Linked DNA regions of Homo sapiens: region 2 is linked to region 1. The links come from fine-mapping of genetic effects on gene expression. A gene starts in region 1. The other region holds a variant in brackets. All regions are shown on one strand. Distances are from middle to middle. Region 1 holds the start of FRMD4A (FERM domain containing 4A). Region 2 holds the start of LOC124902379 (a long non-coding RNA gene).

The links.
Region 2: its variant is fine-mapped to the expression of FRMD4A in whole blood (TOPMed, PIP above 0.99).

What each region holds. Positions count from the first base shown.
Region 1 is chr10:14,322,763-14,337,792 of GRCh38, forward strand. It overlaps FRMD4A (FERM domain containing 4A), which reads right to left and starts at 8,162. Exons shown (of 25, transcript NM_018027.5): 1 at 7,835-8,162; 2 at 7,296-7,421. The coding sequence starts at 7,340.
Region 2 is chr10:13,695,515-13,710,544 of GRCh38, forward strand. FRMD4A (FERM domain containing 4A) reads right to left here. Exons shown (of 25, transcript NM_018027.5): 13 at 11,523-11,599; 14 at 5,826-5,964. LOC124902379 (a long non-coding RNA gene) reads left to right here and starts at 12,052. Exons shown (of 2, transcript XR_007062061.1): 1 at 12,052-12,138; 2 at 12,241-12,896. It overlaps LOC105376426 (a long non-coding RNA gene), which reads left to right and starts at 14,974. Exons shown (of 4, transcript XR_001747371.2): 1 at 14,974-15,030. RefSeq lists a silencer at 5,230-5,279 and enhancers at 11,988-12,723, 12,132-12,181, 12,212-12,261, 12,332-12,391. The variant T/C (reference allele first, on the strand shown) is at 10,547.

The DNA.
Region 1 (15,030 bases):
TACTACCAGGCTAAATACCGTATGTTCCATTAAGCTTCATATTCTGGCATAGAAGCCAATGAGAAACTGCTACTTGCACCAGTAATGTATGTTCTCCAAACCACTATTATACTTTGCAAAGCTGCTGTACAATTAATTTTTAGCAGAGATGCACTCATAGCTGCCCCATCATGTGTAAAATGCACGCATTTTGCCTTTGCCAGAGAGAACATATTGCAGCCCATATTTTAGTCATCTCCCTTCAAAGGGTAAGAAAATTTTGTGAGTTATTCAAGATAGGAATGCAAATTTAAATTTGCTCATAACTAGAATGGCTCACATGGCCACAGGAACATCTGTTTTTCTAAAAGCGTTAGCTGATTGTCCAGAGGTGGTCACTCATTGTCCAGAGACTGGGATGGAGAAAGACAGAACTGGGCAACTTGTTTCTTAGATGGATTTTGTCTCATGTAAGAGTTGCATGAGATGAATTCAGGTAGACAATCATTTCATATCTTTTTAAGACAAAGGAAGGGACTACTAGTATATACTGTGCTATTTGCTTTGGGCCAAAAATAGCACTACGAACTTTACATGCATATCTGGTTGAATTATCCCAAATCTTACATGGTAGCTATTATTATCTTATTTTACAGACGGTGAGATTTGTTCAAACTAGCATAAAATATTTAGGCAATTGTGCTTCTCCATTTATATTTATTTTGAGGAAAATTGAAGCCATGATTTGGGATTCACTGATGCTTTACCTCCCTGACTAGTTTTGCAGATTACCTATCATGGTATACAAGATGCACAGACAACTGTAATGGGTATCTATCCTTTTTGCCCTTCCTAGCATCCCCTTCTGATAAAATAGCATCCTCCCTCCTGATAATACAGCTCTTCCTTTTTTGGAACCTGCTTTTCCCACCCCATGTAATTCAGACAGAGTTATCAGCCAGTTGATTACTTCCTTCCTTCCTTTCAGTAGGTCTAGACACATTAGCCAGCCTGATTAGTCAGAAATCTCCATCTCTGTACCCAGTAATTGGCCCGCGAAGAGCCTGTTATTCAAGAGATCCAAAGACAGCTTGTAAGAGATGACCATGAAAGAGAGTCCTGCTCATTTACCTACATTCACTAACTCTAAGAACAAGTAACCCTAGAGCTGCTGGGAGAAGAATCTGCCAGAAAATGAAGTCCACACAAAGAAAAGCAGAGCCAAGACATGGCAGAGCCAGAGAAACAGGGTTCAGATGCCACCATGCAAAGTCCTTGATCCAGCTTCTCCTGGAGCTCTTTTATTCCTGAGACTCCCTGGTCACATCAGTCAGTAAGTTTCCCTTTCTGCCAATGCTAGCAGTTTGAGTTAGTCTCTGTCGATTAGACTAACAGAAACAGGTCCAGCAGAAAATGAAATAAAAATATATTTAGCAAAAAATCATCTGAGTTAGTTTTACAGTTATGGATTTCAAATTTCACCATTTGAAACAGATAAATTTGTACACTAAATAGTAACTAAAAATATTAATAGCAAGATCTCAAAGATACCCATTGGGAAATTTTACCTTGGGTGCAATAATTTAAGCTTAAGAAGGGTTTTTGCCACTGACTTGGAGGTAACAATGACATGACCATTTCTCAGGGACTTTTTGACAATTATCTTACTTATGAATAAACCAGAAAGATAGATGATACTAAATATTAGTTTCGCCCTTAGACCCAAATATCTAGGACCTCTCCCCTGGGCCCCATGCCTGGATGGCCCCATTCTGTATACAGTGGTTTAGGTGGCTTCACTGTATTACTATGTAATTATTATTCTCCAAATTTCCATAAAAGTTGTCAATATCACTTTTTTTCAAACATATGCATGAACCATCATGAAAACTTGAGTACTATCTTAATGCTATTTATTTATTTATTTATTTAGAGATGGAGTCCCGCTCTGTCACCCAAGCTGGAGTGCAGTGGCGTGCGCCGATCTCGGCTCACGGCAACCTCTGCCTCCTTGGTTCAAGTGATTCTCCTGCCTCAGCCTCCCAAGCAGGTGGGACTACAGGTGCACCCCACCACGCCTTGCTAATTTTTGTATTTTTAGTAGAGATGGGGTTTCACCATGTTGGCCAAGCTAGTCTCAAACACCTGACCTCAGGTGATCTGCCTGCCTCAGCTTCCCAAAGTGCTGGGATTACAGGCATGAGCCACCGCACCTGGCCTGTATCTAAATTTTATCGCAAATTATCTGAGTCATCTTGGGCAAGCCCTTTGACTTCTCTGGACCCCAACTTCACCATATAATAGGAAGATGTCCTGCCTAACCTGCCTGGAGTGTTGAGGACATCCGGTGGGACAACATCTGCAAACGCACTTTGAAAAACATAGAGATTATTAATGTAAGAGCAAGAGTCCTTAAGACAAAACTCAATTTTATTCTATGCTTTTTGACAGTTGGGATCTGCGGAAAAGCCATAGGCTTATTACAAATTCTGAATCTCTTTTCAGGATCTAATCTGAATCTATCAGATTAGACCTCTCACAGGTCAAATGTAGAGAAGGATTAGATTATAGTAATAGAACTAGGACCTTGATCACATCTCCAACTGGCCTTTCTGATCTTGCAACCCTTTGTCACCTACAGGAAATCTGCCCAAACCAGTCTACTCCCCGTCTCCCAAACAAGATCCAGACTTTGTTGTATTCAACCACTCCCCTCACCTCAAATCTGCTCTCTTAACTCATCCATCACTCAACATCTTGCTTGAACTTCAAGAACAAGTTCATCCACTCTGACAACCAGCGCCCCCTAGGGCTCACTTGGTGATGAGTTAGGCACTGTTTTGTTATAGTTCTTATGTGATTCTCTGAAGACGTCCTGTAAATTTCTCATTGTTACAGTTCCTGCGTATCTCCAACCTGTCTTGACAATTAGACTGTAAGTATGCTAAAGCCAGTCACTGCCTTGTACTCTTCTTGCACAAAGTAGATACTCAGCAAATATTTGTTGGTTAGTTAAAAAGGAAATTGTCCAAAGGAGGAAAATGGCTTAGAAAAGAATTTATAAAGAAATGAAATGAGGGAGATAAACTCATAGAACAGCAGGTTACCCATTGAAATCTATTAAACATAGACAAGGGAGCTGGTCTATTCAAAAGAAGCCCAGAAATCTGAAATCAAATATTTAGAATGGAAAGAAACTTCAGGATAATCCAATTGACATTCTTCATTCATTGTGGTTAATCACCCACTAACTTCTCTGACTTGTGAATTGAGTTTTTATACATTTAATTTTTTATGTTATAAAATATGACTCTCAGTAATTTCCTAGAAACAGAGTCTGAGAGAATAGAACCTTGAAAAAATGGCAGCTATTTCATCGATATAAAAAAATATTTTTTCTTGCTAGAGTCAAGCCAGACATCTTGAGCCAGACTTGTGGTATCCCTTTTTTATTTTACACTTCAATATGGAAAAGAACAGATGATTAACAGAAAGACAGGATTCCTCACCTGGAAACACAGAAAATGCTGACTGGTTCAGAGGGGAGCTAACTTCAGGAGCGAATCCAAAGTGTTAGAAGGTCCTAGAAGTCAAATTGTTGAGCTTTGATATGCTGTCAGAGAAAGCACTGGCTTGGGACTCAGAGGACCGAGATTTTGAGAACTTGCTTCATCAGTTTCACTTATGTGACCATTGACAGTTTCCCAAATTCTAATTATCAGATTTTTTTTGGTCTTAAAAATAGGGTCATGGATGGAATTAAATGAGATAATGTATTTAAAGACACTTCATTTATAGAAAAGCTTAATTTGCATTATTTATTATCCAGTTAATTTCCATTAAAAACTATTTTAATCTAGCTGTCCTGAAGGTGAGCCTTTATAATCTAAGAACCGAAATGGCATCATAACACCCTTGAAGCCCCTTGGTTATTCATCCTTATCCTGGCTCTAAAGATAAACTAATCCTCGGCTCTAGCATGTTCCAGCCCTTGCAGCTTTCCCTGAACTCACACGCCCTCAACAAATGACACGTAGCCAAGAGCTTCCCGCTCTACAATTAGTCACATCAATCTGAAGCCTCCTCACGGGTTGGTGAACACAGCAGTATCTTCTTTCGCTGCCTGAGATTCTTGCAAAGATGGGAGAGGCAGCTTTTCAACAGCCTAAAAGGCCATCTCCACCACCAGAATGTGTCTTCTCTCCAAGTCCCCCCTTCCGTGGTCATATGAGTGGCTCTGTCCTGTGTGGAGAGGCATCACTGCCCTCTGTGAGCTGTCCGTTGAAAGAATCAGTGAGGTCCTCCCACCTCAAGATGGTCCAGGCATGCTTACCACCTGGGACCCCTCCCAGCTGACCGCAACCCAGCCCTAGCTTGAAAAGGCCTCTGAGACACTGTTCAAAAGTCATTGGCTTTTGTCCAATGGACCAACTTAGGTTCCTGTGGGGTAGACTCCTGATGGCAGAGTATGAATGAACACTAATGATCATCCGTGTCAGCTAATAATATGAAACATATCTGCCCTAGCATAAAAGCCAGAGTGGGAACACACTCCACCATTTTCATAGCAATACTGCTCATGTGCAAGGTTGGAAATAGAGACATAACGCTAAATAAAGCCCTCGAATTGGCTATCCTGGAACTTCATCTGTACACTGTTTCTTAGAGATCTTAAATTGTGTTTAACAGAATGGAAGGGAACCTAGACATCAGAGAGCACTCTCAGTTAGCAAATGGCATCACCAAGGCAGAGAAAGGAAGGGACATTCCCAGGATCACTCAATGAGTGGCAAGGCTAGAATGGAGCACAGGGCTGTCCAACCCTCCAGACTCTGTGGCCGCTTCTGTAACCAATTAAACATGCTCTGCCCTGAAGCATTTAGCATCTAAGCTGAATGTAACCTCTGGGTGTCTCCTTATCCAAAAGCAAGGGGTGTGGCCAGATCATCTCCCCACCTACCCCTTAGCCCCGATGACTCCATAGCACAAAATCAGAACTGCAATCCACCAACCTGGTATCAGCCTCCCACAGACTGTGTGTTTATGAGCTCTGGCTCTTGCTGTTATGCCAGGCTACTTTCCTCAGTGAGCAGACACGCGATAAATACTGACAACTGATTGGCTGATGAATGAGCTCATAAATAATAATGTTTACAGCTTCCTTCCTGAACTCACAGCCAAAGCAACTCCGCTAAATGGCCTCTTTTCCTCCTTTCTTTCCTCCTCGGCTTGCTTATAAATTTTAAGATGCATCATGCAAGATGTCAGGGAAGCAATTACTTTGGGGTTTACCCTTAAAAAGGAAAAAAAATAGCACCAAAGTCCATAGGGGAAAATTTCCCTGAACTAAACATGAACCAGAAAATGTATACAGACTTTGATTACACATGGTACTCCAGGGTTCTTTAATCAAACGGTCCATCAGGGTGTCAAGAGCTCTTTCCCCTGGTTTCCAAGAGAGGAGAACACGATCCTTTTTTCCGGGCAGGAGGAGAGTGCCAGGGACAGATCTAAGGGCAGAGGCCACTGACAAATGGAAGGTGAAGTCTGAGATGTAGACACTACCAGGACAGCAGCCATAATATGTGGAAGACCCAGGACCAGAAGAGCCTGTGTGTGTGTGTGGGTGGGGGGGGGGGGTGTATAACAGCAGAAATGGATGCTATTCATTTAATTTGGATACCAAGGATTCATGCTTAGGGGCTTGGAATAAAGCAGATACACATCTTTCTTCTAAGTATAGAAGAAAGGTCCAAGTAGGAGGCTGAGACAAGCGGGTCTAACTCTCCCTAAAGATATTTTTCAAGAAAACTTTTCTCCTCTATATTAACACGATGCAGGATTTATTTCTGTTAGTGTACTAGATAATATAATATACATATGCATGTGTGTGTGTGTGTGTGTGTGTGTGTGTGTGTGCATATGTGTGCCTGTATTTCAGAGCATATAACCCAGGCTCCCAGGTTCCCAGAAGTCTCCTAGACCCCATAGATAATGCATTTTAGTGCCAGCCATCATCACGAATACTCAGTGATGGAATGAAAATTCCTATCCAGTTTATTTGACCACAGGTAGACGATGGAGGATAAAGTATCATCAGACGATAGAATTAGTAAGGGAAAGAAGTCAGGTAATGGGTAATTTCTCTGGAAACTGACAATTTCATTTCTTCTAGTCCTACTCCCCCAGTGAAATGAGAAGTCAGCAGAGGCCCATGAGATAGATTTCAGGCAATTCAACTAAATCTGTGGACCCAGTGGAATTTTGAGCAACGAAGAACCAAGATATCTGTTCCTTTTAACATGACCTGGCTTGCCACCCAGGGGGCAGGCTTCCCACTGACGGCTCTTCCAAGTCACCTCCATAAACTCATCAGGCCTTGCAAAGTTGCATTTCCCCTCCTCATTCCGAAGACACAAATCAATATACACAGAAGCACTTATGCTTGGTTCATAAAATCTCCTGTGTAAATGCTGGAAACATTTCCATGCCAAGCCTGATGCAGGCTACTTCCGACAACAGCCAGTATTACCGTGGTGTGTGGGAACCCTGGGAAAGGAGAGAGATGCAAAACCATGGCAAAAGCCACTGCTGAACCTAGTGTCAAGCCAAAAGCCAATTGGGTTGGAACAAGACAGTGCCCATGTCCTTGTGTGCTTTAATATGGTAAGAGCTAGGGCTTTCTTAATATGGTGAAAATTCCAGAGGGGCATAAGGTGAGTCAGCTGCTCACACACAGATAAATGCCTGGACAAGTCCTGCCAAGGTTGGCCATCAATGGTAGATAGGAAACAAGCTGCTCCCAACTCAGTAGCCCAAGCATCACTGAAGCCACAGTGAACCTCCTCCACCACCTCTACAGGAAAGTATGAGCAGATATATGGGCGCCTAGAAAGAAGACCCCATTCTGTCACCCCATGGGCAACAGATTCCACAGTTGCCCTGAGAAGATATCCAAAAACAAACACAATCAGCTCAATTTAGATGCAAAAGACAAGGGGGAAAGGATGCTGGGAGCTGGAGGAGGCATCCTAGCAATCTATTTCGAGGGGCTCTTAGCACCTGTTTGCAAGCACAGCTCTCAAAATAGCATTCAGCAACAAGTTTCTGAAATGGCAAATCTACAGCTTCTTTTCCCTGCAAGTGCTTTGTCATGCTGATACTCTGACCCAAGAAAGCATTTCCAAAGAGCCTGCGGGATAAAGCGGAGCAATGTTGAACATGTCTGCAGCCACTGCAGCGGCAGCAGCAGCCCACGGTGCAGGGGAGGCTGGAGTGGACGCTGCCCGGGCCCCACCTCCTGTCTGAACACTCACCATCAGCAGGCCGAGAGCTGAGTCGGGCACCAGCTGCACTGCCATGGTCTCCGATTCCCATGCACGAATCCTGCTGCCGAGTCAGTCCTCCTGGGCCCCGGGTGGCTACAGAGCATCCAAAAGCACCTGCAGAAAAAGCAGCCAAAATCCAGACTTAGGGAGCAAAAGGCTCAAGGGGAAGATAGGCCACCTTTCACACAGGGTGGGGAGGAGGTCAGGGAAGACAGGGTGGGAACTGTGCTTAGGGAGGAAAAAAAAAAAAAGAAGAAGGAAAATAGGAAGCTGCAGGTTATTTAAAAGTGAGCCCTCCCTAGCTTCGCAAAGCGGCACAGACAGGGAGACCGCATCAAACACAAACGTGAAAGCTTAGAACACGGAATGTTTAACTGCTACCTTCGCCCTGGCAGCAATTCTTCCTTTAACTGACAATTAAAATAAAACATTCCCTATTGCAGATAAATCAAGCAGCCCGAGCCACCCCCTCTCTCTGCATCTCTCAGCAATTCTGCTGCATAAACATGCTGAATGTCACAACATACCGCTCGCAATCTGGTCAGTGTCTTCTTTGCTGCAGATAGGTGTGTCCCTTTTTGCAAAATCAGATATCTGGGAGTGAGACAGCCGAGTCTGACCATGAGGCACCAGGCAGTCACTGGAGATCAGCAAATGCCCTTACCATCCCCGAGGAGGAAGTCACTTAGGAACTGACCCTTCCACCTTCCCCAGATCTACTTTTCCTCTCCAAGTAGACTGGCCAGCTCAGCTCCCGGTAGGGCTAACATACTTAAGAGGAACATGGAATTGCACTGCCTGTTCTGTGAGCGTTCTGATCTCCCTGGCTGTACCACATGTACGCCGCATACAGACACACTCTACCTCTCTCTCCCTCCCTTCCTCCCGCCCTTCCTCCCTCCCATCCCTTCCCTCCCATCTCTCCACAGGGCTGCCTGTTAGGAATTTTGAAGGAGCCTCCCTAGTTCAGGGAGGCATAGGAGGTGAATTTGTCACAAGGGACACTGCTTAACAGGAAAAGGCAAGTTAGCCTTGAAAATCATATCATGCAGCATTTTCCCCGGAAGATGTCAATGAAGGGAGAAAGAAAAAACCTGCCGAATCTTGTTATATAATGGGTAGCTCAAAGGGCTTTCCAGAGTCAAAGACTTAAGAAAATTAGATATCTTTTCATGAGCACTGTCAAGCTTGTATCTTCTTCTGGAGTCCATGTATTCAACTAAAAATGGTTATTCCTGATACTTCTAGTATGTCCTTTTCTGATTTCTTCCTTTACTCACCTCCTGTAATGGCTCCAAAAAATCCTGAAAATTAACTAGACAGTGTGAAATGTAGAAACATAGAGAACAGTTTTCGAAATAAGAAACTAGGGGGAAGAAATTAATGACCTTTCATGTTCCTGTGCACGAGCATAGCTACTGTTCCTTTATTACTTATACTTTTAAAACTATTGATTTGGGCCAGGTATGGGAGCTCACACCTGCATTCCCAGCACTTCTGGGGGTTGAGGCAGGAAGATAGCTTGAGACCCAAAATTCAGGGTGAGCCTAGGCAACATAGCAAGACTTCATCTCTACAAAAAAAAAAAAAAAAAAGAAAAATAGAAATAAAAGAATTAGCCAAGCATGGTAGTGTGTGCCTAGAGTCTCAGCTACTTGGGAGGCTGAGGTGGGAGGATCAGTTCAGTCCAGGAGTTTAAGGCTGAAGGGAGCTATGACTGCACTCCTGCAATCCAGCCTGGGGGACAGAGCAAGACTCTGTCTCTAAAAAAATTTAAAAATAAAAAGTATTTGCTCATCACAGTGCTTAGCACAGAGTAAGTACTAAAATATATTCAATAAATGAGTGAAGGCTGGGTGCAATGGCTCACGCCTGTAGCCCCAGTACTTTGGGAGGCTGACGTGGGCAGATCACCTATGGTCAAGAGTTCAAGACCAGCCTGGTCAAGAGTTCAAGACCAGCCTGGTCAACATGGCAAAACCCTGTTCTATGAAAAACACAAAAATTAGCCGGGTGCGGTGGGCACCCGTGTTCCTAGATACTTGGGATACTGAGACAGGAGAATCGTTTGAACCTGGGAGGTAGAGGTTGCACTGTGGTGAGATCGCACCACTGCACTCCAGCCTGGGCAACAGAGCAAGGCTCTGTCTCAAAATAAAAAAAAAAAGAAAAGAAAAGAATAAAACAAAATAAAATAAGTGAGTGAAAAATTTTCTCCCATTTTGTTTTTCCTATAGTGGCCCAATGAGCTTGAACCTTGATTCCACAGTGTGTGGATGGAGTCTCATGTTACTGATCCCCGGAACACCAGAGCAACCCTCCTTGCCAGCAGGTGCCTGGAGATTCAAAGCATGACTTGAGTCGCATGCATGTGGCCTTGCACAGAACTGTCAGGACATTCTGACTGTGCTGGTGGATTGCAATACTATTCAAAATAATATGTATAGTCACATTTGAAAAATAATAACAATGATTTAAGGAACAGGTCTATAATAGTGATTTAAGGGACCTTATCCTAACTTTTCAGATGGATTTCTAAATGTATTCAACTGATATTTGCAGAATGCCGACTTTGTACCTCTGCCCTCAAGGAACTTTTTATCTGGTAGAATCATTAATGATACAAGATAATATGTAAGAAATGCAAAAAAAAAAATCCCAAATAGTTTGGATAGCACAGAGTAGGGAGGGCTTACCATTTCTTTTTTTTGTAGCTTTTGCACTGGAACTTCAGGAACAGCAGAACATCTTTTTCAGGACATTTGCTTTCTGATTCTACATGGACTATGTGTTTGGAAAATAACCAAAGCTAAGAAAAAACGTTAATATTGGAGCTATTGCAACTGGTGGATATGGGCAGAGAAAAGACAAACCCTGAGGAGAGACAGGCAGGAGCAGCCTCAGGTATGGGACAGTCTGGGACATCCTTAGGTTGCAGAGGCCGGCCTGAGAGATTTTGTGTCAGCCCTTGACGTTGGCCCCCAGAACACCCGCCTTCCTCTCTCAGCACTTCACTCATGGCTCCTTTGCCTGGAAAGCCTCATCCCCTGTCTGCTTGAATTGCAGCCCAGATTTTCTGGAAAATAGCCTGCAGCAAATCTTCTGCAAGAAGACATCATTGGGAGGTGCAATTTCAGGGTGGCAAGAGTGGGGGTGTGGGGAAGGTGAGGCAGGGATGGAATGAGAGCAGGTACAAGGTGGGGTTGACCAAAGTGGGCATAGGACAGCTACTCAGTCCTGAGGAAGAGCTTCCAGACAGGTATGGAACTTCCAGTTTTTGGCATAACCCATCAAGGAGACGAAGGGAGAGGGAGCTAACAGCCTAGTGCTGTCCATTAGTTGACTCTTTTTGGTCAAATTGATTCCATCAGACATTAACCCTCTTGCGCTTCAGGGTTATGTTACCAACTCCCGCAGGTAGGCATGAAAGGCATTGCATCTGAGCCCAGAAGATAAGGAAGAAACCATAGCCTCTGTGAGTCAGTCAGACAGGACCTGGGCCCTGGGGTGGTGAGGCTCCTGCCTCAGTGTGTGGGATGGAAACCCTCCCTGTTCTGTCCTGGGAGGCTAGGACAGCTAGCAGTGCCAGGAATTGAAATGACAATGGCAGCACCTGGGATTCCCAATGAGCAAGTGGCTCAATTTGCCCAGGGAAGACAGGAGGAGCCAAGTAAATCTGGGAAACACATACACTGAGTCTGGTAACAGCATATACGTTCACACAACATTCAGTGTCAAAAGTTGCATACTTCATGAAATTCTTCCCAATTCCTCTATTTGGGCATTCATAGTTGCTTTGTTTGTACAACTTTTAAATTCCTTCTTTAAAAAAATTGGCAGTGATTTGCTTTTCTCTAGTATCCCCCTACTAGAGAGGAACAAACTAATTTCGGAACTGAGCATTGCTCTTCTCTGTTTACTTCTACAGCTCCAAGCATCGAGCTCAAACAGCAGCCCATGCTCAATAAGATTAAATCAGGCACCAATGGAGATATCAAAATGTAAAGCGCAAAGAGGAAGAGGCAATGGCAAGACCTCAGGGAGTGGATAGGACATGGGGAGTTTGTGAGGACAGGTCACAGGCTGATGGAGAAGGAGTTGTCAAAGGAGGAAAAGGAGAAGAGAGCTCCCAAATTCGAGTGGCAATGGTCATTCCACAAAGATGCCTGGGTGGGGTGGAAGGGTGTTTCAGTACAGTTTCGGACACAGAAATCGAACTGCAAGGGGTTATCGAGCAGCTTGTGAGGAAGAGAAGTTAATTCATATTAAATAGGCCCTCATCAAAAAGCAGTGGAATATGAGCTATCCAGGTCCTTTCAAGAACTAGTTCAAGGTCACAGAAGGAAGAAGGTGTGGGGACAGCAATCCCATCCTCTGAGTCACTAAACTCGATTCTTGGTTAATCTTACCTCCCAAGAAAGCTATATATATATGAAATCCATTTCAATGTATCCTCCTTTAAAAACTCCTCAAATGAAGCATAGTTCAATGTCACACCCATCGCAAAAAACAGCTCTTCATAAACCTCTTCTGGGCCAGGTGCAGTGGCTCATGCCTGTGATCCCAGCACTTTGGGCGGCTGAGGTGGGTGGATCACCTGAGGTCAGGAGTTTGAAACCAGCCTAGCCAACATGGCGAAACCCCTTCCCTACCAAAAATACAAAAATTAGCTGGGCATGGTAGCACGTGCCTGGAGTCCCACCTACTTGGGAAGCTGAGGCAGGAGAATCCTTTGGAGGAAGGTGGGAGGTGGAGGTTGCAGTGAGCCAAGTTTGCACCAATGCACTCCAGCCTGGGACACAGAGTGAGACTGTATCTCAAAACAAACAAACAAATACTCTTCTGTATTTAGCGTGAAGCTGTTGTTCAGACATTGGCCATGAGACCACCCACTGCCATCTATATAAGTTGCCCCAGGTGAGAAATTCCTCTCAGAATCTAGTACAAAGGAAAATGTCATTATCCTGAAAGAGCCTGTGGTGTGGGTGGCTTTGGCCCCAGAACACCTGCCAGGCCATTTTACTCTCAGGAATCTGAAGGCTTATTCTGTCATTTTCTCTAGGATCCCGAGCAAGAATTACAAGGGTGAGGTGAGACTCAAAGAAAGTATTATTTATTAGAGATTTTCTTAAGTTGCACATAGTAGACATTCAATAACTGTGAGTTCTCTTTTGGTCCCCTTTTAATTCTGATAATGAGAATAGTGTACCTAATCACACTTGGCACACTGGACTTCCAGAATGCCCAAAATCTAATTTTACTTTCAATGACAGCAGATACTATCATAACTGGCATTATTACTTCCTTCTTTTCTTTCAATCTTATTTTTCCTTCTAATGCATACTCTATTACTCTTATTGAGTAGGCCTTTTTGTCAGTAAGCCATCTGAAATTCATTTTTAGTAAGAGATGGGACATAAATCACTCATTAATGTATACACTGTGCTCAAGTAGATTTGGCACACTGTGAAATATTTTGCAGCTATTAAAATGGCAATTATGAAACTATTTAGAAGTATTGCAAATGTCTGAGATATGTTTATTTGCAAGTAATATGAGACATATTCTCTAATTGCAACCATGTAAATATTTGTATTTTAAGAATATGTGAAGAACTCCTGCTTCTATCCAAGATGGAATTAGAGGGAGCAAGTCTACACTTCACATGAAACAAACAAAAAATGTAAAATATACGGAACAATACTTTTCAAGTTAATGGACATAAGACAACAAATGCCAGTGATCCATGAAAGATAAGAAACAAATTAGAGAAGCCTTACAATTGTCCCAGGTTATTGAATCAAGAGTATTTCCAGGCTACGGAACCGAGAGTGGAGCTACGTGGAATCAAGTGTTCTCCAGAGTCATGGAGACAGAGCTGAGAGTCAGGAAAGATTGGGATGAACACAGTTCACAAGACAGAGCACCAAAGAGAAGACAGGTGTAAAGAGAAAGAGAACTTCTGAGATCTTCAAAGAGTCCCCATGAGCACTCAGTTGAGTGCTGATCACCACATACATGTGGGGAAGCCACTCAAGGCTGGGGAAAGAACCACATAAAAAGATTGGAAAGAATGGTGACCAGTGCTCACCCAGGGCCAGAACAGTGTCTGCTCACATCCGCCAGACTGGAGAACTTCATAATTCCTAATACATTATTAGAACACTCAGATGGCTCTTGCCTCAACAGTGAGAAATAATTGGTCATAGATTGATCACTGTCCTGAATCTGCCTAACCATTCTGAAAAGTAAGACCCAAAAGGATTAAACTATTTCCACGTAACTTAACTGGATTCCAAACAAACTTAAAGAACATTTATAAAATTACAAAAATATCCAACTCTCAATGAGGTTAAATCTATAATGTAAATTTACATTGTGTATAATTTACATGTAGATTTATAAACTAGAATGTCATCTGATAAAAATTACCATGTACGAAGAAAGTAGGAAGATATGGTCACTAAATAGAAAACAAATCAATCAAAATCATCCAGAATGAACATAGATGTTAGAGTCAGCAGAAAATATTAAAACAATTATTATTGTTTAAATAACATTAATTATTAAAACAATTTTGAATATATTGTATTCAATATATTCAAAAAGTTAATTAGAAACATGGAAAATATTTAAAAATTCGAAGAACAAAATAAGCATCAGTCAGCTATAGGACATCTTCAAGTAGCCTGATAGATATATCATTTGTATCCTTGAAAAAAGAGACACACAGAAAATTGAGTTGAAGAAATAATAGCCAACATGTTCACAGATTATATGCTGAACAAATTCTAAGCATTAGAAACATGAAGAAAACTACACCAAGGCACTTCATAATCAAATTGCTCAATATCAGTGATAAAGAGAATATTTTGGAAGCAACCAGAGAGGAAAAACATATATCACGTACACAGGGACAAAGATAAGGGTAACAGTAGATTTCTTTTTTGGAAACAATGCAAAGAAGAATCCAGTAGAGCAGCGTTCTTCTAAAAATTTAAAGAAAAATTATCAGTATAAATTTCTATACCTACAAAACTATCTTTCAAAAATGAAAGCCAAATAAAGATTATTTTAGACCCACAAAGTAAATAAAAGGCAAACCAATTTGAAAAGAAGTAAAAATTCTCACAAAGAAAACCCCAGGCCCGGATAGATTTACTGGTGGATCCTAGCAAAGATTTAAGGAAGATTATACCAAATTTACATACATTCTTTGGGAACACTGAAGAGGAGTCAATACTTACGAACTCATTTTTGTGACACCAATACTACCCTGTTATCAAAATCAAAGACAATAAAAGAAAAGAAAGCAACAGATCCTTGTCCCTCATAAGCAAGAATGCAAAAATTTTAAACAAAATGACACCACATAGAATCCAACAGTATATTAAAAAGATAATGCACTGTGGCCAACCAGTCCATATTCCAGGATTGCAAGGTTAGTTTATTATTCTAAAAGCAGTCAGTGTAATTTACTATATTAACTAACTAAAAAAGAAAAACCATGTGATTAGCTGAATGGATGAATAAAAAGCATTTGATAAAATGCAACATCTATTCCTGATCTTTTTTAAAAAAATTCAGCAAACATGGAGTAGAAGGGAACTTCCTTAATCTGATAAGCATGTACAAAAATGTATAGCTGTCTGCATAATTAATGCAAAAGATTGAATGTTTTTCCCCTAAAATCAGAAACAAGGCAAGGGTGACCATTCTCAGC
Region 2 (15,030 bases), 630 kb before region 1:
CACACGTGTGTCCAATGTTTGCTTGTTTTCTTCTTCAGGAAATCAACTTTTTGTGAGTGTGCTGAAGGCAACAGGCTTTGCCAGTACACAGAACTTCGTGAAAACAACTAGAAACGGTCACTTGCTCATCTGTCCTTTCTGTGGCCACTGTCTACAGCACACACACGGACTGGGCGAGGTTCACCATTGTAGCTTCCTGCCTGGCCTGTGGAACCCAAGGTCTTTCCCACACAGGAGAAAGCAGGCATGGGGGCGGTGGTGAAGGCCATGGAGGGGTGTGGACCCACCACTCCTGGATGCCCCGTGTACAGCCTACCTTCCGTGCCTGGGGGCCCTTACTGTCCAGCCAGGGCTGTCTGAATGCCTGCAGCTCTGCCCTTCCTCTGCCCTCGACGTTGCTGTCCACACTGGCAAGGACAGCGACTTCCGACCTCATGTTAACACGATGGAAGTCTGCGGGCTGGAGGAAACACTGAGGCATGGCGCTTGTTTTCTTCACCTGGTGTGAATTGTCTTCCTCCTCCTCCTCCTCCCTACCCCGTGGGCCTTTCCTCGACTTATGCTTCCTTGCTAACCTCAACTTTTTTCCTTGCATTCAGACTGAAGTCGACTTCCTCAGGCGAATTTCCTTGTTCATAAAACAATCCTGGCTGCCAGGCCCTCGAAGGATTTTGGCTTGCCGCAGAAGGAAGGAAAAGGGCTTTTTATTTCATTTTGACACAGCCTATCATTTGCGCCCATCTGGTTGAGTTTTACCCTCTAAGCAAGCATGGCGAGTACAACCCATGACTTCCTTTCTTTCTACATCGCTCTGTTATGGAGACCCAGGTTTTAATAAAAAGTAGCCCACTCCCAAACGGTGATGTAACAATAACTCACGAAGGCCTAGACCAATTCAGTGCTGGGTGAAGGGTCTGGGCTCTGAAGTCAGAATGACCTGAATTAGAGCTGGGCATGGTGGCTCAAGCCTGTCCATCCCAGCACTTTGGGAGGCCGAGGTGGGTGGATCACTTGAGGCCAGGTATTTGAGAACAGCCTGGCTAACATGGCAAAACCCTGTCTCTACTAAAAATACAAAAATTAGACTTGTGTGATGGCACACGCCTGTAGTCCCAGTTACTCTGGAGGCTGAGGCAGGAGAATTGCTTGAACCCGGGAGGCGGAGGTTGCAGTGAGCTGAGATCACGCCACTGCCTGATCTCATTCCAGGCTGGGTGCTAGAGTGAGACTGTCTAAAAAAAAAGACCTGAATTAGAATCTTGGCTCTTCCCAGTGAATCACTATCGGACTTTGACCCTTCACCTTCCTGATTCTCAGATACATGTTTGTAAAATGGAGGTCTTAAAACCCACATCCCAGAGTTGTGATAACTAAAGTAGATAATTTATGTAAAGGCCATCGTAATAAGAATAGGATCTGCATTAGGGCCTGGCTGTAATTTGCTAACTGAGGTTAGATTGATGGCCCAACCAGATATTTTGGGGACCTCATTAATCACATGAAAAACTTATCCCCCTTGTCATACCAGAACTCTTGCCACACATCATTCTTAAAACAAAAATATGAGATCAAAAGGCATCCTTCCTAAAGGAGACTAGATTCCTGGAAGCCTTATGGAAGCTTTAGCAAACTACTGGATTTTTTTTTTTTTTTTTTTGAGACAGAGTTTCACACTGTTGCCTAGGCTGGGGGAGTGCGGTGGCACGATCTCAGCTCACTGCAACCTCTGCCTCCTGGGTTCAAGCGATTCTCCTCCCTCAGCCTCCTGAGTAGCTGGGACCACACATGTGGTCCACCACGCCTGGCTATTTTTAGTAGATACGGGGTTTTGCCATGTTGGCCAGGCTGGTGTCAAACCCCTGATCTTAGGTGATCTGCCCGACTCAGCCTCCCAAAGTGCTGGGATTACAGGCATGAGCCACTGCGCCCGGTCCGGATTCTTTCTAGAATGGAAAATATCACAGCGACCTAACAGACTCGGTGGGGAGAGGACCGGGAGGACATGGGCATTGTCGGGGAGAGTCTCTCTTTGCAAAGTCAGGTCTCTGGGCTGACCTTAAGGAGTCCCCAGACTCTGGAACATTTTGGTCTGGGAGTCTTGGCTGATACACGTGACTCAGTCTTCTGTCTGATATTGTGGGAACAAAGCTTCAATGTCCCTGTCCCCCTTTGACTCTGCCTTTGACTCTAAATAAAATGGTGAACTGCATCAGGGAGAGAAAAAAAAAGATTAGGAAGAAGGAAAGACGTTTGGATTGGGGGCCAATTCAAGAAGTCCCCACTCTGAGTTCAGAGGGAAAAGTGTCTAATGTCGACTCTAAACATTTTGAACTTTCAAATATTTTCCTGCAAAGTCTCTAAGACGTTCCTTGGCTCTGGGCTTCAGAGGCTGCTGGGATCTAGCAGACAACGTTTCTGATCTCTGGGGTCAGCATAGAAGTTACCAATTATAATTGGTGCCTGTGCAGCTTCTCATTCTGAAGGAGCTACAAATAACCAACCAGCACAGCCTCCCTCCGCCCTGTCTTAGATCGTAGAATGGTTTCTTGATGTATATGCATGGAGAGCTGATGGAGGGAGGGAGGGAGAGACAGGCAGAGAGAAAGAAGGAGAGATTTCCTTAAATGATTTGCACAGTGACCCTGAAAGAAGAAAAAACCCGAGTGTCAGGGGAGCACCTGAACCCTCATGGCTCCCTACCCTTGCTGACTCGAACCACTAGACCTCACTTGTCTCTCTAGGGTTGATAAACATCATTTGGGAGGCCTGGGCTTTGCTGAAGCTCTTCAGAGAAAGGAATGGTTGGCATGTCCCAGTACAGTAGAGTGTGAGCAGTGGCCAGGATACCAGCCAGAACTGGCTGCCTAGAAATGTTATGAAGCTCTCTGTCCCAGCCCTGTCGGCCATCACTCACCCAGAGGCCGTGCTGCCCATCAGAGATCAATCACATCGCTGTTCTATAAAGAACATTCCAGAAACAGAAAGGTGTTGTAATGTAATTCCCAAAGGGTACGTCATCATCTCTGATTTAATTTGCGGGCCTTTTAGAGAATTTAAACTTCATGCAAGTGTTGGCCAGTGATAGTATGCTAGATTAACTATGACATTAGTAAAAGATGGCACGTATTTCCTCAAGCAATTTCACAAACGTGGTGCCATCTGACCAATCACTAATTGAGGTCAGGAATTTCCTTTGCTGCTAATTGGGGAAAGCAAAACACCAAGGATGAAAGACCCACCCGGGGTCCCAGAGCTGGAAAACAGAGGCCTCCAATTCCCACATAGAGGGTTGTGATCCTCACCTGTCACTGCAGGCTGGGGAACTGGTTCCTGTGAGAAGTGTGAGGGCTCTAGGACATCTGTGAGCATGCCAGGCTTCCTGGGAAATGTTCTCCTTCTCCTTCTGGGAGCGTGGGCATTTTCTTCAGTCCCCAAGGGTTACTTTTACAAAAGGGACAGCTGAAACATTCCTAATGCTATGGGGCATTTGGTTTTACCTCCTAAAAGACACGTCTTGTTGCTAATTTATCTACAATAATCTTTTTTTTTTTTTTTTTCTGAGATGGAGTCTCACTCTGTCAACCACGCTGGAGTGCAGTGGTGTGATCTCAGCTCACTGCAACCTCTGCCTCCTGGGTTCAAGCAATTCTCCTCCCTCAGCCTCCCTAGTAGCTGAGATTACAGATGCCTGCCACGATGCTTGGTTATTGTTTTTTTTTTTTTTTTTTTTTTTTGTATTTTTAGTAAAGACTGGGTTTCCCCATGTTTGCCAGGCTGGTCTCGAACTCCTGACCTCAAGTGATCTGCTCTCCTCGGCTTCCCAAAGTACTGAGATTACAGGCGTGAGCCATGGCGGCCGGCCAATAATTTCCTTTTGAGATATACTTGCTGTGTCAGTGAGTTGACCTGTTAGCCTGTTCAACAACAAGGCTTGCCAACTGCAGAATGAGCCCATCTTCCCGGGTGCAGCAGGAAAGCCATAAGAACAAGTTTCTTGAAATGCTCAAGAGACCGCCTATGCAAAAACCGGCGCAGAGAGGAGGAGCTTGAACAGCCAATGCTGTGCTATCCTCAGGGCGAGATACACCTTTTCCTCTGTCCACACTGTGGTACAGTGCGTGGGGGGTCTGCCGTCAAGGGGAACTGGCAGTGGGGTTCAGGAGCATTGCCCAATCCCCTAACCCCCACCATCCATCACCCAACCACAGAGGGTGAAATTAACGTTCTCAGGTGTCGACCTCCAACTGTTGCCCCTGGACAGCAAAACCCTGACACCCACCCACTGTGTCAATATCGAGCATGAGTCAAAAACACTTTGGCCCCATTTCTTTTGATCTAATCGAGCTTCAAATTCCTGCGCTAGGACTAGGACCCATCACTGCCAGGAGAGCTGCGGAGAATACTGTCATTATTCCTAACAACAGAAATTCTCTGTCCTGCGCTCATTCATCCCAGAAAATGACCAAAAAGGGGGTCAGAAAGTAGAGGACAAGATATTTTACAAAGGATAAAATGACGGCTGCGGGGGACAGACCCCAATTTAAAACTGAATTATGACTAAAGGGATTGTTTCATTTCGTCCTGTCCTCTTTTCTTCTTTTTTTTTTCTTTTAGTAGAGATGGGGGTCTCACTATGTTGCCCAGGCTGGTCTGGAATTCCTGAGCTCAAGTGATCCTCCTGCCTTGGCCTCCCGAAGCGCTGAGACTACAGATGTGAGCCACTGTGCCCAGCCCTGTCCTCTTTTCTTTCTCTTATCACCTCCCCCTTGACCCCCAATTCGCTCACTCTCCTCTTCCCCAGAAAAAGAGAAACCCCTTAAAATATGGATAAGATGGCAAAAGAGAAAGAACCCTAGAGGGCACCGATTCAGTGACTCTTGTGCCCAGTAAGTTGAGCATCTTGCCACCTTCTCCCAAGAACTCACGCGATGGAGGGAAATCCTCCGTAAGTGCTAGAAACCACTAGCCCAGGGGCCCAGGGTGACCTCAGTCTGTATTCCCCCAGCCCAAGCCAGCAGGATCTTGAGAGAAGCTGCAGGGCCATCTTGGCAGGGCTCTTCCCCTGAGGGAGAATGAATGGGAGTGGCTTGTGGGGGGCTGACAGGGGAGTCTGGGGAGACAGGGCTGGAGGAAGAGGGGGCAGAGTGTTGATATAAGCCCTGTGTGAACCAAGGAGACGTCATCCTCTCACCCACCAGAAAACGCAGCTGCGTGCCCAGAGTCAGGGGTGGTGACATCTCCTTGGAGGAAGTCTGTTTACCAAGGCCCCAGGCTCTAGGTCTACCTTAGGGAAACAGGGTAGTTGCTTTTTTTTTTTTTTTTTTTTTTTTTAACGTTTCCAGTTTTGCATTAAAAAAAAAAAAATGGAGTTGGCAGTTGGAACCGCCTGAGGGTTTTCACAGCAATTACCCTAAACAGTTAGGTGGTGTCTATTCGTTGAGAAAGATTCCTTTTTTCTTTTCAAAAGGAAGATAGTATACCACTGTTTAAACACCAAAAAGGGCTTGCCTTCACGCTGCTAGAGGATTCTCCCGAGGGCCAAAAGCACAGTGGGAATTCCTCAAAAGGGGCCTACCTGGCTGCAGTCAGCGGCTTGAGCGGCTCTGATGGTGGTCAGAGCCCCCTGGACCAAGATGCATGGAATGTGCCCTCTTGAAGAGCTAGTCTCATCCCTCCCATCTGTAGCCCTAAGAGGCAAGCCTGTATCTGTGCAAGGTATGGACCCGGGCAAGGGACATGGCGCCTCCCCCACCCATCCGATCCTCATTCCTAAACTAAGAGAGGCAGACAATGGCCCGGGCTTGGTGAGAGGTCTGGTCACTCACCTTACTCTGCTTTCTGTCCAGATAGAACTGGTGTTGGCTTATGGCCATAGCCCAGATGGACTTGATCAATGCCGGACATGCATACCACGTGTGCACTGCAATGCCGCTGTGCCCAAACGTCCTCCTTGTCACTGAAGCCCTGGGGAAGCAAGAATCACAAGGTTCAATCCCATTTCTGTTGAGAGAAACCATTTCTCAGTCAACAGCTTCTGTAGAGAACCCACTGCGTCCTAGAAGCCCTGGCGTAAAGATGATAGATGAGCTCTCACATACACCTAGGCGTACACACACACACATGCGCACACAGCTTACAGACATCATTGGCTGGGCAAAGGCCACCTTCTGATTTTCTGACTCCCTAGAGTTCAGAATCTGGCCAAGCCTCGGCCTTGTCTGGGATAAGATGGGTCATTCTAGGTCAATGGATGGTCCTTTTTCGATCCTGGACTTGGCACTGGGCCAAGACAAACTTCGCAGACAGGAAAACCTTCAATGATGCTCCCTATGAGACAGGAAATGTGCCTACGGTGGGGATGAGTAAATTATTTTCTAATCACCACAGGCTACAGCGTCCCAGGGAATTGGGACTTCTTATATAACTAACCCAATGTTCCTTGAAGATTTGGTGATCAATTTCCAATCTATTCAGAGGGCAGGGAGGGTATAAAGAATCAGGAGAAGAAAGGCAGAGAGAAATGTGCCCAGCCCCAATTCCCCCAACGTCTGTCGATACATTTCATTTATATTTTTCAGATGGAGTCTTGCCCTGTCACCCAGGCTGGAGCGTGCTGGCAAGATCTCAGCTCACTGCAACCTCCACCTCCCAGGTTCAACCAATTCTCCTGCTTCAGCCTTCTAAGTAGCTGGGATGACAGATGCCCCCCACCACTCCGGGCTACTTTTTTGTATTTTTAGTAGAGACAGGGTTTCATCAGGCTGGTCTCTAACTCCCGGCCTCAGGTGATCCACCTGCCTCGGCCTCCCAAAGTGCTCGGATTACAGGCATGAGCCACCGCACCTGGCCCTGTCTATACATTTTTAAATCTACATGGAGTAATCAGACTTTAAAAGTGAAAACGGGAACTGTTCATCTCCACATTCATGGAGTTAGGGGGAGTTATATGGTCATGCTCTTAGTGAAGTATATTTTATAGGATAGGCAGATTATTTTGCAAATGAAATCTAAGAATGTGTGTTTGCATGTGTGTGTGTGTGTGTGTGTGTGTGTGCGCATGCATGTGAGACAAGTTGACAGGAAGGTGGGCTGGGATTTGGGGCATTTTACATGGACATCAGAAACAAAATGTATGTTCTCAAGACTAACATATCTAATTTGGAAGAAACCTGGGGGTAATCAGGACTTACAAACAATAACATTTTTTTTCATGGCTAATTTTCCCTTAAAGAAAACAAAGCTGCCAGCAATATCTTACTTTGGGCGGGGGTCGGGGGTGCTAAAGATTTAAAGTGGAGTCTTGTTCACCCTCACTTTTAAGGAGAAATTCAGATCCGGTGGTTAATGTTACTGAGTCCACACAGGTTTTTTCTCCCTTCGGTTCCAACAAAAGTGAAGGAAAAAAAAAAAAAAAAAAGCCAGAGCGTGAAAGAGCACACAGTTGAAAATAATTGAAAAAAGGAGCCAGGGAGAGAGCGAGGGGGAGATCCCTCGCCAGTCTCTCTAAATTTAAAAGAAAACAGGGATCTGTGCTCCCAGCTTGGCTTCCATAGCAGTTCTTGCTCTTGGAAATAAATGAATGACTTTTTTTTCCCCCCAGAAAAGCTGAATTAGACAAGAACAGTATCTTGAAAGGTGGTGCAAGGCTAGGTACCTCCATTTCTCAGGTACCGGGAGGGCAGAAGAGGTAAGTGGCTGGTCAGGTCCGGGTAGTTCCCCGGAGCATCTAAATCAGATACTCAGAGTTCTTCTCCTGCTCTATCATTACTTTATCTCCTCTCCTCATCTTTCGCTTCAAGCCCTTCCTATTTTACCCAAACCGTAGAAGTGAAATATTGGCCCAGCCTGGAGAAGCTCAGAAATGAAGCTAAGCATTGAGTTAGGATGCCCAGGGGGAGAAAGTGCACAGTGTTGTCCAGTGCCCCACAGGGAATGGTGCAATCACACCTGAGCCCATCGGCCCAGAAAGCAGCCTCTGCCCTGAATCATTCCCATCGATTACATCTTCATTAAATGACCGTATCTGGCGTTGCCCATCCTATTACTGCAGTTCTGACTGCCTTCCTGGCTTGGGGGAGGGGCTGAGCCCGGAACACCAAACTAACGTGAGGCCAATCACATTCCTCTTCCCTACCTCAAATAAGCAAGGCCACAAGCAATAGGATGACACATTCAACTTAAAAAGCACCGCGAGGTTCACTTCAAAGTAACTGGAAGAGAGGACTTGCAATGATACCAACATAAAAATAGTAAACACTGAGGCGGGTGGATCACGAGGTCAAGAGATTGAGACCATCCTGGCCAACGTGATGAAATCCCATCTCTACTAAAAATAAAAAAATTAGCTGGGTGTAGTGGCGCACGCCTGTAGTCCCAGCTACTTGGGAGGCTGAGGCAGGAGAATTGCTTGAACCTGGAAGGTGGAGGGTGCAGTGAGCCGAGATGGCGCCACTGCATTCCAGCCTGGGGACAAAGTGAGACTCTGTCTCAAAAAACAAAACAAACAAACAAACAAAAAAACACTCAAGGCCATGGATACCCCACGTACCCTGCCTTGATCATTCCATGTTCTATGCATGTAACGCACTCACACGTGGCTCATGAATACGTGAAATAGTAACTCTCAATACAAGAGAAAAAAGGCACCACTAGGATGTGAAAAAGAGAACTGAGTGCAAGAAAGATCTTACAGCTCATAGCTCTGGCTCTGCCATGCTAAATAACTGACCTGAAGCCATTTCCTTTCCTTGTGTGTCTTTAATGCTGAAGTCATCCCGGGTCTCCACCTCTGGCCTCCCTGGGCCTCTCCCCCATTCCTGCCTGTCTGCAGGCTAACTCAGTGTACTCAGAGCGAGTTTGCCTGGGACGAGACAGCTCTGCTTCTTCCTCTGGGCTCCTCCAACTCCCACTTCCCTCCAGCCAGACCCTCCCTCATTTGTTTATCCTAATTGAGAAGCCCCCACCTGACATCTATATCCCCCTGAGGCCCTACCACGTGGCTTTAATCCTAGTTACCCCTCCAGGTCCAACTCAGACCTCTCCTTCCTGGTAAGCCTCTCCCTTCCTGACCAGCCAGGCCTCTGGTGACCCTGTCCTTCACCCTTCATGGCCCACGACGTCTGGCCCTTCTGTACAGTATAGAGATAAAGGGCATGAGCTCTGGAGCCAGACCTCCTAGGTTCAAATCCTGCCTCTCCTGTATACTAGCTACTTGTCGTCTAGAGCAGGTTTCTTTGTTTCTTGTGACACTCCATGAGTTCCTTCTTCTCAGCCAGGTTCCAGGCAGTGGCTCACGCCTGTAATCCCAGCACTTTGAGAGGCCAAGATGGGAGGATTGCTTGAGCTTGGGAATTTGAGACCAGCCTGGGCAACACTGTGAGACCCAGTCTCTCCAAAAAAAAAAAAAAGCTGGGTACGGTGGTGTGTACCTATAGTCCCAGCTACTCGGGAGGCTGAGGCTGAGGTGGGAGAATTGCTTGAGCCTGGAAGGTGGAGGCTGCAGTGAGCTATGATTGCACCACTGCATTCCAGCATGGGCGACAGAATGAGACCGTGTCTCAAAATAAAAGTTCCTTCTTCTGCCTGTCTTCTCAGTTACACTAGAAGATCTTTAAGGAAGAAGACCCTGCCTCCGACTTCCTTCCTTCCCCGCCACAGCACCCGACAAGGACACAGAAGCTTCGCAAGAAACATGACATTGATCACTGCTGTCTAATAGGCGACAGGCCCACTGAATAGTCACGTGTGAGATCTAGATTCTTTCCTATATCCCTGGGCTTTGGTAAAGAGAGTTTAGCAGTACTCACCAATAGGGCGACAGACGCACAGAGAACACGAACACACATGTGCAGATATATGCGTGCGTGGTTAAAGGATTTGTCCAAGGTGCCTGGGTGTTCACTGAATTCCCAGCAGAGCACAGGCATGGCGGAGGGTCTATTCCCTGCGCTCAGCCCCTTAGATTACCCAGCCCCTCATTTTTATCCTATGGAGCATCCCCTTTCTGCATCTGACCCATTGTGGCAAAGTTCATTTCACTCTTTCTGTACTTAAATTTCCCCTCTCTTACATGCCTAAGAACCTGGTCCAATTCAGTTCACCTGGAAAATGAACAGTGAGTTTCTTCTTGGCTGGAATCTTATTTTTGAAATCTCCCCGCCCACCCCACTTGGCCTGCACAGATGGATCTGTGCTCCATGGAGTGGGGCTTCTGGCCGCGAAACCCCTTGCAGGGCCCTGAGAAACACCGGATAAAATATTTTTCTGTTAAAGGCTACCATTTTCACCTGACTGTGGAGATGCAGAAACTCTCAGCTGCTCTCCACTAACTATTCCTGTAGTAACCGTGGTGCTGAGATAAGCTCTTGCCCTACACAGGAGTGGCTGTTTCAGGCAGATTACCCTGGAGGGCAAGCACGGCTTCATTCCTACCGGGTTATCATGGGCTGCAGGAACAGGGGCTACTGCACAGGTCCAAGCCCTCTCACTGGGCGGGGTAACTCCAAATCTCCCTCCTGTCCAGAGCTCATGGGGAGGGACTGCAGCT[T/C]GTTTTGAGCATCAGAAGCCATGTGTGAGCTGGAATTGGTGCCAAGTCCTCCTTCTAAGCCCAGGGCTGGAGCGTCAACAGCGCCTAAAACCCACTTTTGCTCCTCTGTAGAGTCTGATCTTTTTTCTGTCTCCCTGGGGCTACCTTCTTATTGTAAATGTCTCTGACCTTATGGAAAGTGATTTCTTAGTTGTCAGGCCTGGTTTTAGGGAATTACGCTGCTGTTTTTGGGGATGCATATAACTTTAGGTCCAGCGGCAGACAAAGAGAGGAAAACAGTGGGTATGAGCTGCCCAGACCCCAGCCACCTGGGGCTCCCTGCATTCCAACCTGGGGCCCCACTGTCTTGCATCTGACTTAAGAGTACAGGGACTTTTTACAACCCTGGTGCTCTCTGGGGTACGATTTTGGGTGGAGGGAAAAATAATTTCATTTCTTTCACATCCACCCACAATACTAACATCCTAAAATTACAGCTCCTGGAATAAAACAACGTAGCACAACTGCTTTGGTGACAAATTCATTTTCGCATTGACCGTCCTGCCTGAAATACTTTTAGAAGCTCTAATGAGGGATTCTTCAGACTCTTCTATAGCAAAAGTTTCCTATGGGGACTTACTGGTGTGTGTTACAAAGTGCTATAAAGCTTCCTTCCAGTGCCCCGGCAGGTAAGACAAACACATACACTGACACACACACACACACACACACACACACACGAGCCAGGGACACATGTGGCCAGATGAGACAGTCAGGGGATTGCTACTTACACACACGTGCGAACCCACTGCATTTATCAACACATGTAATTGAAAAGAAAGTTTCACTGTCTGATTTGAGCTCCATTCCCCAGGAGCCCCCACCCTCGCTCCCTGCTCCAAACTGACCATGAACAACGACAGCCCCAAAATAATATCCATAACACGCCCGGCCGAGAGCCACGCCATCCCGCAAGAAAAGGACTTTTCAAGCTTACCTGCGTGGGTCATGAACTTCCACGGAAAACTTCTTTTCTCTGAAGTACAGGTTTTCCAACTGTCTCCATTGGAATATCTGGACAGAAAACAGTGTAGTTTAAAACTCAGGAGGGGCTGGCTCCTGGGCCATCTTCCCCTCTCTGCTGGTTAACTTTCGACAGCTGGCAGTTTCCTTATCAAAACAGAGACCGTAGTCTGTGCCTCCTCCGCCTCTTGCTTGACACACACACACACATACACACACACACGCAGCTCTCCAGTTCAAAACCAGGCAATGTGGGTGTGGATTTTCCTGCAGGTTCCTTAACTGGAACAAAACAAGTTCTTTTCAAGTTCTCCGCCTTCGGTCGGCCTTTGTTGGTTTGGTCGTGGCAGTCCCCAGCTTGGCAGACTTTTCCCTTCCAGGAGAGGGAGGAGAGGTGGAGACCGGGGAGAGGGACCCAGCAGGGAAGGCGGCGGGTGAGGGGAGAGGAGCGAGAGGAGCGAGCGCTCAGGAGGGAGCGGTAGCCATCTGCGTGGAGTGCTGAACTGAGCTTCCTCCCCTCCAGTGCTGAAATGGGAAGGCGTTCAAATTCCCAGCCTCCCATCGGGACTCCACTTCCTGCTCACTAATGTGTAAGAGCCTTGCAAAGGGCGGAGGAGGCTGGGACCTTATTTCGGGGGCAGGCAACTCAAGATCACAGTGTGAGCCTGTCAAGCCCATTCTTCTTGCTGCAGCACAAAGAAAACCAAGAGTTCTGTCGCCCGGAAGGACGCTGCGGCCAGAGTCTCTCCCTCAAGCTTGGCCAGGGAGGGTGAGAAGTGGAATGAAGGGGCCCTGGCGGTCATTCCTCCTTCGGACCAGTGAGCTCGTTAACTGAGAAGCTGACTGTAATGTTTGGAAGTAATTAGGGCTGCATCCAATTGCTCCAGGAACGGGGTTCCTTTCATTGGATGAAAAAGAAAGTTACTTTAACCCTCTGGGAAATATCACAGGAGGTTCAACTTGTGTGCACACACATTTGCATTAATATTTGCTGGTTACTGCATCACCTTCCACATACTGGGAATTTCGGTTTATTTTGCGGAAAGAAGGGGTAAAGTAGGAATCTTGTTCTTGTCTTTCTGCGGGGAACAGCTTCCCTGGGCTCCCCCCTTTCTCTGGCCACTGAGTTAAATGCTTTTCAGGGTCTTACCCCAGAGTCCTCGGACCTCAGGCTCCTGACCCTCTCTGACCTGCTCATGTTCTGCCCACCTTAGAGACGTGATGGCCATTTCCTGTATCTGACCCACCCTGTCTTCCCAGGCTGGGGACACTGCTAGTCAATGGTTGGCTAGTGGACCTAGCACCCCATATAAAACTGGGCTGGAATAAAAACTGCTTCTGGAATGGCCACATTCTTTTATCCTCACAATCTGCTCTCTGGAATTTTACAATTATTTTGTCTGCGTTAAGTACTGGGAAGGAGAATATCTATTATCTCTTATTACAGAGTTGCCTCTTTTGTCCCCGGCTCAGAGTGCATTTCACTCTGAAGCCCAAGGAAATTGTATTTTTCTTTCTTGTTAAGCATCAACTCCAGGTGGGTGGAGAGACACTGCAAGGAAAGCAAATGGCCCAAAGCTCTATGTTGGCTGACAGCTTTGTGTCAGAGATTCAACAGCGCCTTAGCGGAGTCTATTACTAAAATACACAGACCCAGGTCTCATGGTCCTGTCTGATGCTTGGCCACTATAAATCCTTCCATTAAAACACCCAAATTTCCTCTCTGGTCCCCAGGTATTATATATTCAGCGACATTCCACCTGAACTTAGCCAGAGCTACAAAAATACCAGAATGAACAGGTTCCACGACATTGGCCTCATAGCCTGGGGGCAGTACACTGAGCAAAGCGGTCAGGCAGGCAGGCTTTGTGGTCTGACTACATCTGTTTGAATCCAAGCTCCACTACTTTTTTTTTCTGAGACAGACTCTCACTGTGTCCCCCAGGCTGGAGTGCAGTGTCACGATCTCGGCTCACTGCAACCTCTGCCTCTCGGGTTCAAGCGATTCTTGTGCCTCAACCTTCCAAGTAGCTGGGATTACAGGACTATGCCACCACACCTGGATAATTTTTGTATTTTTTAGTAGAGATGGGGTTTTGCCATGTTGGGCAGGCTGGTCTCCAACTCCTGGGCTCAAGTGATCTGCCCGCCTCGGCCTCCCAAAATTTTGGGATTACAGGCGTGAGCCACCGCACCCAACTCAGGCTCTAAGCTGCTGGACCTGACACAAGTTACAGCATTTCCTTTAGCCTCAGTTTTCCCCTCTGTAAAATGGCAAAAATAACCCCTCTAAGGTAGATCTCAGCAGCCACAGATCGTAGCACAGTACCGGCACAAAGTGACCTTAGATCTTACTATGAATCCCAAATGCTCTTACTTCTCCCAAATCCTTGCAGATTAAAAGAGAGTAACTCCAGAACAACCAGAATCATTCTTTTCTTAGATTTCCTAACTCAAGCCCTGAGTTTTGGATTTAAAAAAAAAAATATGTGTGTGCTGCAAATCCTTAAATACAGAGAATTTTTCTCCCAGTGCCTCTCCCCTCCTCTCACGTAAGGGATGTGGATGGTACTTCAATGAAAGGGTCCTGTTGGCTGCATACCACGGCGGTCCCTCAGCCGCTATCCTGCACCCGCCTTGCTCAGGCAAAGTGAAGTCTTGAACAGGATCGGCCTTCTGGGTGTGCGACCTGAGGGCCCTTTGCTCAGAAGGTCCTTGGCTTGATTTCCTGCTCTGCTGTTGATATCTTGAAATTCCTAACAGGTTTTTTTTTCTTTCTTTATATCTTTATTCTTTTTTTTTGTCTTGTTGCTATACGCTTTTTAAAAAATTAATTTCCATAGGTTTTTGGGGAACAGGCGGTATTTGGTTAATTAGTTCCTTAGTGGTGATTTATGAGATTTTGGTGTGCCCATCCCCTGAGCAGTGTACACTGAACCCACCTAATGGGTTTGATCAAGGGGCCCTGCATTTCCATTTTGCACTGGGCCCTGCTCATTGTGGACTTGATCCTGGCCTTAGGTCCTGGCATGTACTGGTGCTGGCAGGCTCTGTGGGGTAAGGTGCCTGCCAGCCTAATGGGCAGGCCTGGGAGGTGGAACCCTCAAGCCCTCCAAGAGAAGGAAAGAAAGCAGAACCAGGTGTGAGCACGCTTGAGAAAACCCCTGTGCCTTTCATGGGAAGCCCCCCTCCCCACCCGATGAAGAACCCCAGAGCAGAATGCTCCGAGGGGTTGTTTCCCTGGCAACTCCTGTCTCCCCCATTCCATGCAAAATAAAACACAAACCAAGCTTTGCTTTAAGTGCTCCCTGATGCAGTTCAGCGTGGAGAACTGCGCGTCTGCCAAAGAGCCCGAACAAAACCATCTGGACTCTGCTGCATGGCCCCGTCTGTGGCTGCTGTAGCTGCCCGTGGGAAGGCCCTGCCTCCAGCTTCTGCCCTTGGCTGCGAACCATGGAGTCCCGGCTCCCAGGCCTATCCCC